Linked DNA regions of Homo sapiens. The protein of the gene in region 2 purifies or fractionates together with the protein of the main gene of each other region. This does not show direct contact. Each region holds a gene or a part of one and is shown on either strand. Other genes may lie near its edges.

Evidence for each region. The genes of interacting proteins can lie anywhere in the genome.
Region 1: the proteins of EDRF1 (region 2) and FYB2 purify together in Homo sapiens (affinity purification with mass spectrometry, with the first as the bait; one large-scale study listed by BioGRID). This does not show direct contact.

Annotation. Positions count from the first base shown.
Region 1 is NC_000001.11:56,816,103-56,820,633, reverse strand, and holds the start of FYB2 (FYN-binding protein 2), read left to right. Parts: upstream 1-1,229; 5' UTR 1,230-1,343; coding exon 1,344-1,352; intron 1,353-4,531. UniProt on the Homo sapiens protein: Adapter protein that plays a role in T-cell receptor (TCR)-mediated activation of signaling pathways. Required for T-cell activation and integrin-mediated T-cell adhesion in response to TCR stimulation.
Region 2 is NC_000010.11:125,736,244-125,740,748, forward strand, and holds part of EDRF1 (erythroid differentiation-related factor 1), read left to right. Parts: intron 1-1,674; coding exon 1,675-1,746; intron 1,747-2,051; coding exon 2,052-2,202; intron 2,203-4,219; coding exon 4,220-4,408; intron 4,409-4,505. UniProt on the Homo sapiens protein: Transcription factor involved in erythroid differentiation. Involved in transcriptional activation of the globin gene.

The DNA.
Region 1 (4,531 bases), on a different chromosome or scaffold from region 2:
CAGGTTTGGGAATCACCTGTTAGAGGAAATGGCCCTCAGGCGGGGTCTCCTCACCTGTGCTCCACCCCGCCTCTCCCTGGTCAGGACAGGAGAAGATTTCTAAGAACTTGACAAAGCAAGAAAAGTCACACCGGTTACACATAAAGCAGGGCGCAGGCCACCCACTCTGCCCATCCCCAACCCCGGGAGAGCTGAAAGCCCCAAAACTGGCAACTGAGGTTTGGGTTTCCATCTCCAGCTCTGTCAGAAAAACAAACAAACAAAAATAACCCCAGCAAAATAAAATCACTTTAGAGTCAGCCAGATCTGGGTTCCAACCCTGGCTCTTCTAGTTACTACCTATGTGACCATGGGCAGGTGTTACCATCTCTCTGAGACTCAGTTTCCTCACTTTTTTTTTTTTTTTTGAGACGGAGTCTCACTCTGTCCCCCTGGAGTGCAGTGGCATGATCTCGGCTCACTGCAACGTCTGCCTCCCAGGTACAAGCAATTCTCCTGCCTCAGCCTCCCAAGTAGCTGGGATTACAGGCACCCACTACCACACCTGGCTAATTTTTTTTATATTTTTGGTAGAGACAGGGTTTCACCATGTTGGCCACGCTGGTCTCAAACTCCTGACCTCAAGTGATCCACACACCTCGACCTCCCAAAGTGCTGGGATTGCAGGTGTGAGCCACTGCACCCGGCCATTCTTCACCTTTTAAAATGGGAATCCAAATGCCTCAATAAACACCAGGCCAAAAACAGGGTGCTCCTTTATGTTAACTCCTTTTCTGGCCTCCACTAAATCCCCCTGTGGGCTTAGGCATGCTGTCCTGCTGGGCTTTGGTTTCCCTGACCGTGAGAAAGGGTTTGTGAAATTAAGTAGCCGTCTGCAGGGGCGGAGCTGGCAGAGGTTGTTACTAACGGGGATCACACTGTCCAGCCTGCATGGTCTGTACTAACAGGAGCCTGCCATCCCCATTCCTTCACAGCTCCTGCTGCCTGGGCACAAATGCCCTGGAGAGTGAGTGACTGTCAGACCAGCCGGAGGGGAGCAACGGGAAGAGCCGCTTGCTGAGAAGAGGTGGGCTTGGCAGGACTGCAGGTGGAGTACTCTCCCCAGTCCCCTGCAGGTGCTGGTCTAAGCCAAGCTGGGAGGATGGCGGCCGGCCCTGGCCCAGCCCCAGGCAAGGGAGGAGCCTCGGCCCAGATGGGGCAGGTGGGGAGCCTGGGCTCAGGTGTGTCCTGTGGGAAGTGATTGCTCCCTGGCTAGCAGAGACAGAGGAAAGCGGATTGTTGGCCCCAGGACCCAGCTCTGAGAGGCTGGGCTTGTTTCCCTGACTCTGCCTTGGAGGAAAGCAATGGAAGGGGTAAGGCTGTCTCAGTTTTGTTGCTGGCTTTCTGTGTGTCTTTTCTTGCAGGACAAGTTCCTCCCACTTGAGAGCCCTGGGGAAAAACTGCTTGTGTGTGCTGCCTCCTGGGCAGGAATAAACATGTCAGGTGTCAGCCAGTGCATTTCTGCTCACACTGGCTTTGCTCAGGGCGGGTGGGAGGGAAGAGGAGTGTGCCATGTCCTGTGCCACCTGGAGTGTGAGGGGACAGGAGGTGCTGAGGAATGACAGCATGTGGCCTAGCTCTACCCAGCCAGCTGGACTCCTGACCTATTCCCAGATCCTCCGTTGAAGCGCCCGCTGGCTTCTCTCTGTGTTTACTTGCCCTTGTGGACTGTATCTGGCCTCTGCAGTGATTAGCGGGCCTCCTGGTCAGAGAGCAGTGCTTGGTGCTAGGAAGCCGGCTGTGCATTGCTCTTTTGTGGCTTGTGGCTCTAGACCGGGTTCTGCTCCTTGTTAACTGTGTGGCCTGGGGCAAGTGTGTCCGTCATCCTGAGCCCTGGGTCCCTCACTCATGAAAGAGAATTACTGGTACAATAACTACTTTGTGAGACTATCAGAGGTGCTTGTATAAATAGAGATGTATGGAAAAGTATCCTGCCCTACGCCAGCATTCCCTGCCCCTTGGATGGCTGAGTGCTGTTGGCACAGTTGGAGACGTCTTGCCTGACTGACCACATCTTCCTTTTTCCTTCTCCAATTCTCCACTCTCCTCTATTTCCGTCTTCAGTAAGTCAGTTTCTTTTGATGTGCGTGTGCATGTGTGTGTGTGTGTGTGTGTGTGTGTGTGTGTGTGTGTGTGTGTTGCTTCCATACTTTTTATTATATATTTGGAGTCAAGTCATTTTCTCCCATGAATCATGTGGCTTCTCACCCACAAGTTTGGTTTTAAATCAGGGCAGAGGATCCATTTTAGCTTTTGCTGGTCAGGAAAAGCTCCCCTTTGTCTCAGGGCAAAGGGCATGTTTCTCTCTGTGGCAAATCACTCCAGTCCAAATAGCTGAGTTTTGGAAAGGGGTGAGCAGGGGCATGTTGGTATGACTTCATCTCCCTCCTCTGAGTTCTCCCCGCCACCCCCACCTCGACCATACCACTTAGCAATTTTTAAGAAACTCCTCCTTGACGGGAAAGTGCCAGGCTGAATAGATTTAGCGTGCTTGTAAGAAAAGGAAACTGACTTACATTTTCCCCATCTCTGATGGGCCAGGATCCGCACTGGCATCCATTATTTCAGTTTATCTGATGACAATACAGTGTGGTCTATGCCATTGCCCCATTTATTGTAGATGAGGTAACTGACAATGTTATCACTTGCTCAGTATCATACCACTGGCAGCAGAGCTGGGACATGAGCTTACATGTGTCAGTGCCAACTATAAGCCAAGCATCGCTAGCAAGGATTACAATAGGACAGCAGGAAGAATGTTAGGCAAATTAGACAAAAATGTACAAAAGAGCATGTTTGTTAGCTAATCACATTTTTATGGGATAAGCTAATATGATTATATAACTTTCACTGCTCAGAGAGAGAAAAAAATCAAGAGAGAAATAAGAGTGGTTTCTCATCTTGAAAGAAGGATTGGTTTCATTTTTTAAAATTAACAAAATATTCATTTATTCAATATATATTTATTGAGGACATGGTTTGTGTGGTCAGGTCCTGCTTTGGTGCTGCAGATGCAGCAGTGAACCAAACGGTTGAAGATACCTGCCTTCCTAAACCTCATATTCTAGTGAGAGAAGACAAAAAAATCTATATATGGGTCAAATGGCAGTAACTGCAATGTAGATACACAAAGCAGGGAAGGGTATAAGGATGGTCAGGCAGGAAGAGGGACTGCTATTTTCAATGAGACCATTTCAAGAAAGGTGTCAATGGAAGGTGGCATTTGAGCAGAAACTTGGAAAAGGTATAGGAATTAATGGGCTGTGTGGATATCTTAGAGAAGAACATTCTACAGAGAAGTAACAGCAGATATAAACGCCCTGAGGCAGAAGGTCGTGGGTGTTTCAAGGAATGACTGGAGCTGGAGGAAGTGAAGGAGTGTTCAGAGAGTGGGGTCAGATGATATAGGGCCCTGGAGGCCATTGTTGAAACTCAAGCATTTCCTCTGAGCGAAATGGAGAGCCACCTGGGCATTGTGGACCAGGCAATGACGCAATCCAGCTTACATTTTAAAAGGATCATCTGACTACTGTTTTGAAAATAGATACTAGGGACAGAAAGTGCAGAAGCTGGCTGACCAGGTAGGAGATTATTGCAGTAATCCAAGCAAGAGAGGTTGGTGGCTCAGACCAGTCTTAGCAATGAAGTGGCTAGAAGTGGTCAGATGCTGGAAATAGATTAAAGGTAGGGTCAGCAGGATTTACTAATGGATTAGACAAAAAAAAAAAAAAGAAAATTGTTGATGACTCCAACTTGTAAAGCTGGAACATCTGGAAGAGTGGAATCAAGGTTTACCAAGATGACTTAACACAGAGCAGGTTTGAAAGCAGATTAGGAATTGGTTTTAGACGTAATATGTTTAGGGGGTCTACATAGGTGGGTTTAGAGTTCAAGGAAGAGGCCCAGGCAGGAGGTATCATCTTGATAATATATCTACATTATCTAGAATAGCACTGGGTGTGTAGTAGATGTTTAGTATGTGTTATATGGGGGATTTTAAAACTTGGCCTCACATTCTCTGACATCTTCCCATGAAGAGGTGGTGCCCATGTTCCCATCCCTTGGTTGAAATCATGACTACTCTGACCAATACAGTGTGGTACATGTGACACTCTGTGCTTTCAGAGACTGTGTCATAAAAGGTCATACCCCATCTACCTCATTTATGAGAACACTTACTCTTGCAGCCCTGAGCTCCCATGTGAGTAATCTCTACCCCAATACTTTCTGGCTAGAGACACGTGATGTAGACATTCTGCTTGACAGTTACAGCTAAGCCTAGCCTTCTAGCCATTCCTGCAAGACTAAAATCAGTACCCTCCAGACTAGACCAGCCACTGGTGAGATGCAGCCAAATGACTTTTACCAACACCCTGTGGAACAGAGGGAGAACTCAGCTGAGCCTCGTCCAAATTCCTATCCCACAAAATTGTGAAATATAGAAAAATGCTTTTTGTTTTAGGCCACTCAGTTTTGGGGTGGTTTGTTTTCA
Region 2 (4,505 bases):
GATTGCTTGGTGAACATAGAGTAGAGAAGGGGGTGGCTCTTGGAACTGTATATGGTGAGCTCTGGTACATTATCCCTGTGCTATATAGGACAGTACTTTTTTCGTGACTCTTGTGGTCATGTCTGTTGTATTGGACATGTCTCTGCCCTGGAGAGGGCCAGACAGATTTCTCCCTGTGTGGATTGCACTGACTCTACCATCAGTGTATCTCCAGGCAGTATATACCTTTCAACATACCGTCTCCCTATGATTAGATCCAGGCCAGCCTTAAGAGTTCTGGCTGTTCCCTGAACTGAAATACAGTCGTATTTACAGATAATCTCTTAATTTAAGCACTGAGTGTAACTTTCAGATGGAAACTCTAAGCAAGTTTTTGAGGGGCTATGTCTGTCACCTTAAAACATTGACCATCTTTCTGACCTTCACTTGCTCCATTGGTTTGCCGTGGCCATGCTGGGTTTTTTTTCTCTCAAAAGCATCAAGATTATGCTCATTGGAGGGTCTTTGTATTTGCTGTTGCTTCTGCTTGGAATGTACCTACCCTAGGTCTGTTCATGGCTGCCTTTTTTAAGGCTTAAGTCTTGACTGAAATGTTGCCTCTTCAGGGAGATGTTCCCTGACCACTCTGGCCAAAGCATGCTCTACTTTTTTGTCCTTCAAGGAGCCTATCTGTTCCTGAAGTTCTTAATGTTTGTCTTGCTTCACTAGAACGTAAGCTCCCTGCAGGTACAGACCCTCTATCTCCCATGTCTAGAACACATTATGGGTGCTCAGTAAATATTTGACTAAATGACTGCAGGAAAAAGTCATTAACTGTCCATCTAAATTTTAGTTCACTTTCAGCTTGAACTTCCACAGTGGAGTGAAAAAATGTTCTGGTTATAATCATTGATTGCAAAAGTTACATGTATCTGGAAAACTGCATTGTAACACTAGGCCATGGACTTACGGGGCAATTAGGTAATAATTAAAGATGTAATGAGTTAGTGTCACTATTTTTCACAGATAGCACTTTCTGTTCCGTATCTGAAGCACTCAAAAAATGCAGTCTTAGTATTCATATAAACATGTCTTTAGTTAGCCTTTCCTTATCCTCATTGAATGACTTTGTGGTATGGACAGTCAGCATGAGCTCCAGGGTCCCAGCTCCCCACTCACTCACCGTGTCCTCAGACAAATTGCTAAACTGTCTGTGCATGCTTCTCTTCTGTGCAATGAGAACAGTAATTCCAACCCCACGGGATTCAGCGAAATGAAATGCTTCACAGAAGCCCCTACACATAATATCCTTCATAGTTGGAGGTTGCTAGCTGCTTTTGCTCCTTAATTAAGCAAATAAATTAAACAACGAGAATATTGGTGATACTTGTTATTTCTAAATTGACGCTAATTGTTAATTGTGTTTTGTCCAGTATCGGTGCTAATTATGAGTGGAGCTGACCTATTAGATGATGTCTATATTTGTCTAAAACATTACTACTCTAGTTCTTGCTTTTTTGTCATAATAGAATTGTATTTAAAATTGTAAGTACTTAAAGCAACATATATGTTGTAGGATCTTTTTAAGCAAGATTTTTGTTGATAATGCTTACAGTAATTTAATCTTCAACAAAAACAATATGTTGACCTTAATACATTGGTAGTGTATTAATAATTTTATGTTTGTTCCTCAAGCCCAGTTGTGCATTTCCAGTTTGCCATGACACAGAAGAGCGCTGTAGACTTGTGCTTAGCTATGTTCTAGAGGTAAGTTTAAGTTTAGTCTTCACTTTTTTCGTAAAGTTTGTACTTGATTATGCAAATTACACTTGTTTGTTGGTATCTAAATGTTATTCTGAATTGTGTTCTGCTGCGATTTTTTTTTCCTTAAGCATAAAGTGAAAATCAGATTTGTTTTTCCCAAATCTTTCAGATCAAACATAGTTTTTGAAAGTCTGTTTGTGAGATGGAAATTTTCCTAAACGTATTCAGTAGTCCAGATACTGTCTTATATTTAGTTTTCAGTTGACCTGAAGTTAGATAGATAGTGAATGCTTTTCCTTTTTTTGCAGGGTTTAAAATCTGTCGATAGCAGCATCAAAAAAGAAAGCGACCTTCCAGCAGCTGACCCCAGCACTCCAATCCCGTTAAAATATGAAGATGAATCCTCAAGAGGGGGTCCCGAGGGGCTAGAGAAGCAGATGGCCTTGTTTTTGGACAAAAGTAAGTTGAATTGATGTGCAAATAAGGCCTTCAATAGAATAATACACTGGTTCTTTATCAACAGCAGACTTATGTCAATTAAGGCATTAATTGAAAGGCATTGAGAAAAAGATATCCTGTGAACTGGAATTAGGGGTAGTATTCTTTCATTTGAAATATAAAAAGGATAATTTTGATGTTTCATGGACATTTCTAATAAGAGCATAAGGAGCCTGCATCTTCCTGTTACCCACAGTGGGGAACTAATGCTTCAGCCTGGTGGAGTTCTCGCTGGATCGTGTAGGAGCCACAGACTTAGCCAGACTGCCTAACTTCATATCTTGGCTTTGCGAGGGCAAGTTGCTCCACTTCTTTGAGTCACTTTTTATCTCTTTCAAAATGGAGACGATAATAATGGTTTCTTTAAAGGGTTGTTAAATGATTAAATGATTAATATATGTAAAGTGCTCAGAACAGTGTACATAATAAGCACTATAGAAGTGTAGGCTGTTGTTACTGCACAGTACTTGAATAAGCTACAAATGTCACTTTTAAATTATCTAGTTCTTCAGGAATATAACATCATGAAGAATATATGGACTTCGAAGCAGAAGTTGTGAATTTCTTATTTTAACCTAAGTTGTATTTCTTTTTCCAACCTTATTTCTTTCCCCCTTTTAAATCAGTTTCAATTGTTTAAAAAAAAAAAAAGTGTAGAAAGCCTGTATGTTTGAAGTACATCTGAATCATAGTGGAAGCGCTTTCTGGACCCTTCTTCTTTTCCTGAACAAACATGGTGGAGGTAGGAGAGGAATAGATTTATTTCCCCAGCATTTATATAGTGCTGCTGGTATGCCAGGCTTCGGCCTACAGGCAGTAAGGAGATCACACCAGGACTTTTGCCATTCTTTTTTTCTGAAATGCCTTTTCTGTCTCCTTCTCCATCTCCCCTGTTGAAAATCCTGCTCAAGCTCAGAATCTCCATGTTTCCCTCTGTTCTCCATCAGAATTACTTGATTCTCTTACCACTTTGTCCTGTGAGCCTGCCTTATGTCAGAGTTCCAGCATTAAATGGTTTTACACACACATGCACACACACGGTTGTGAACAAGAACTTCATCTTAATTTTAGTTTCTCACAATGCCTCTTACTCACAGATGATGCTTATATCAGCAGAGGAAAAAAATCCATACACACATTAAACCATAATGAAGACTAAGTACCTTTCATTGCCTTGAAAGACTTGTGTTCTAGCTGATTAAAAAATGAGAAACCTTCAGGCTGGGGGAAGGGGTGGGTGTTTTTGTTATTTGCAGAGCAAAATTTTCCACAGTATTTTGTTCTTTGTCTGTTAATTACACTTAACATATTTTGTTGTGGTTTATGTTATCAAGGATAGAGGCCATATAACTTCATGTCACAGTTTCCAGTGCCTGGCACAGTACTTGGCAGAAAAATGATCATTTGTTGAGTAAAGAAGGTAGCGATGGGCTGGACTTTAAATAAAGAGTATTCCTTGTAGAGGAAACAGTAAACTAAGATGGGAGATAGGAAAAACAGGCATGTTTATAGGTGACAAGCAGTAACTTAACATTGGCTGATGGGTAGTAGGATGGACAAGTAGGAAGTGAGACTGAGAAACATGCAACTAGCTAAGTGGGGAGAAGCCGTTTTCATGTTTGAGGACAGGCTTTCACGCTGATCTAAGCTGTGCTTTAGGAAGGTAAACTTTGACAGGTTGACACATAGACTGGAAAAAGGAGACAGGTGTCACTCATGAGGTTAGCTATGTCAGTGACACTGGAAGAGAATGACAGAGTTGCCGATGTCAGGGAAGCAGAAGGCCTTAGAACTCCCAAGTGAGAGTCTTTTAACACGGCCATTTCACTCCAGTGTATTTAAGCAGTAAAGCATAGTATTTACCAGTCTTGTCACCTAAGTCTAGAGTGTTTCCATCAAGAAACAGAAAATATTTTTTGTGCATGAGACTTACAGTCAAATGAAATGTGCTGTCTTTTTTTTTCTCTCCATGTCACAGTGGGCTCCCTTCAGAAGGGCAATTATTCCAGTCAATCTGGAATGATCCCTGGCTCTTGGCAACATAAAATGAAACTTCAGCTGATTCTCAAGTCATCAAAGGCCTATTATGTTTTGTCCGATGCTGCCATGAGTCTTCAGAAATACGGAAGAGCATTACGATACATTAAATTAGCTTTGCAAAGCCATGGTAAGCCACTATAAATGAATATGTTTAATAGGCACTGGGAAGAGAGAACAGAGAAGGCATCTGAATCACAGTGGAAGTTTACTCCTATTTTTCTAGT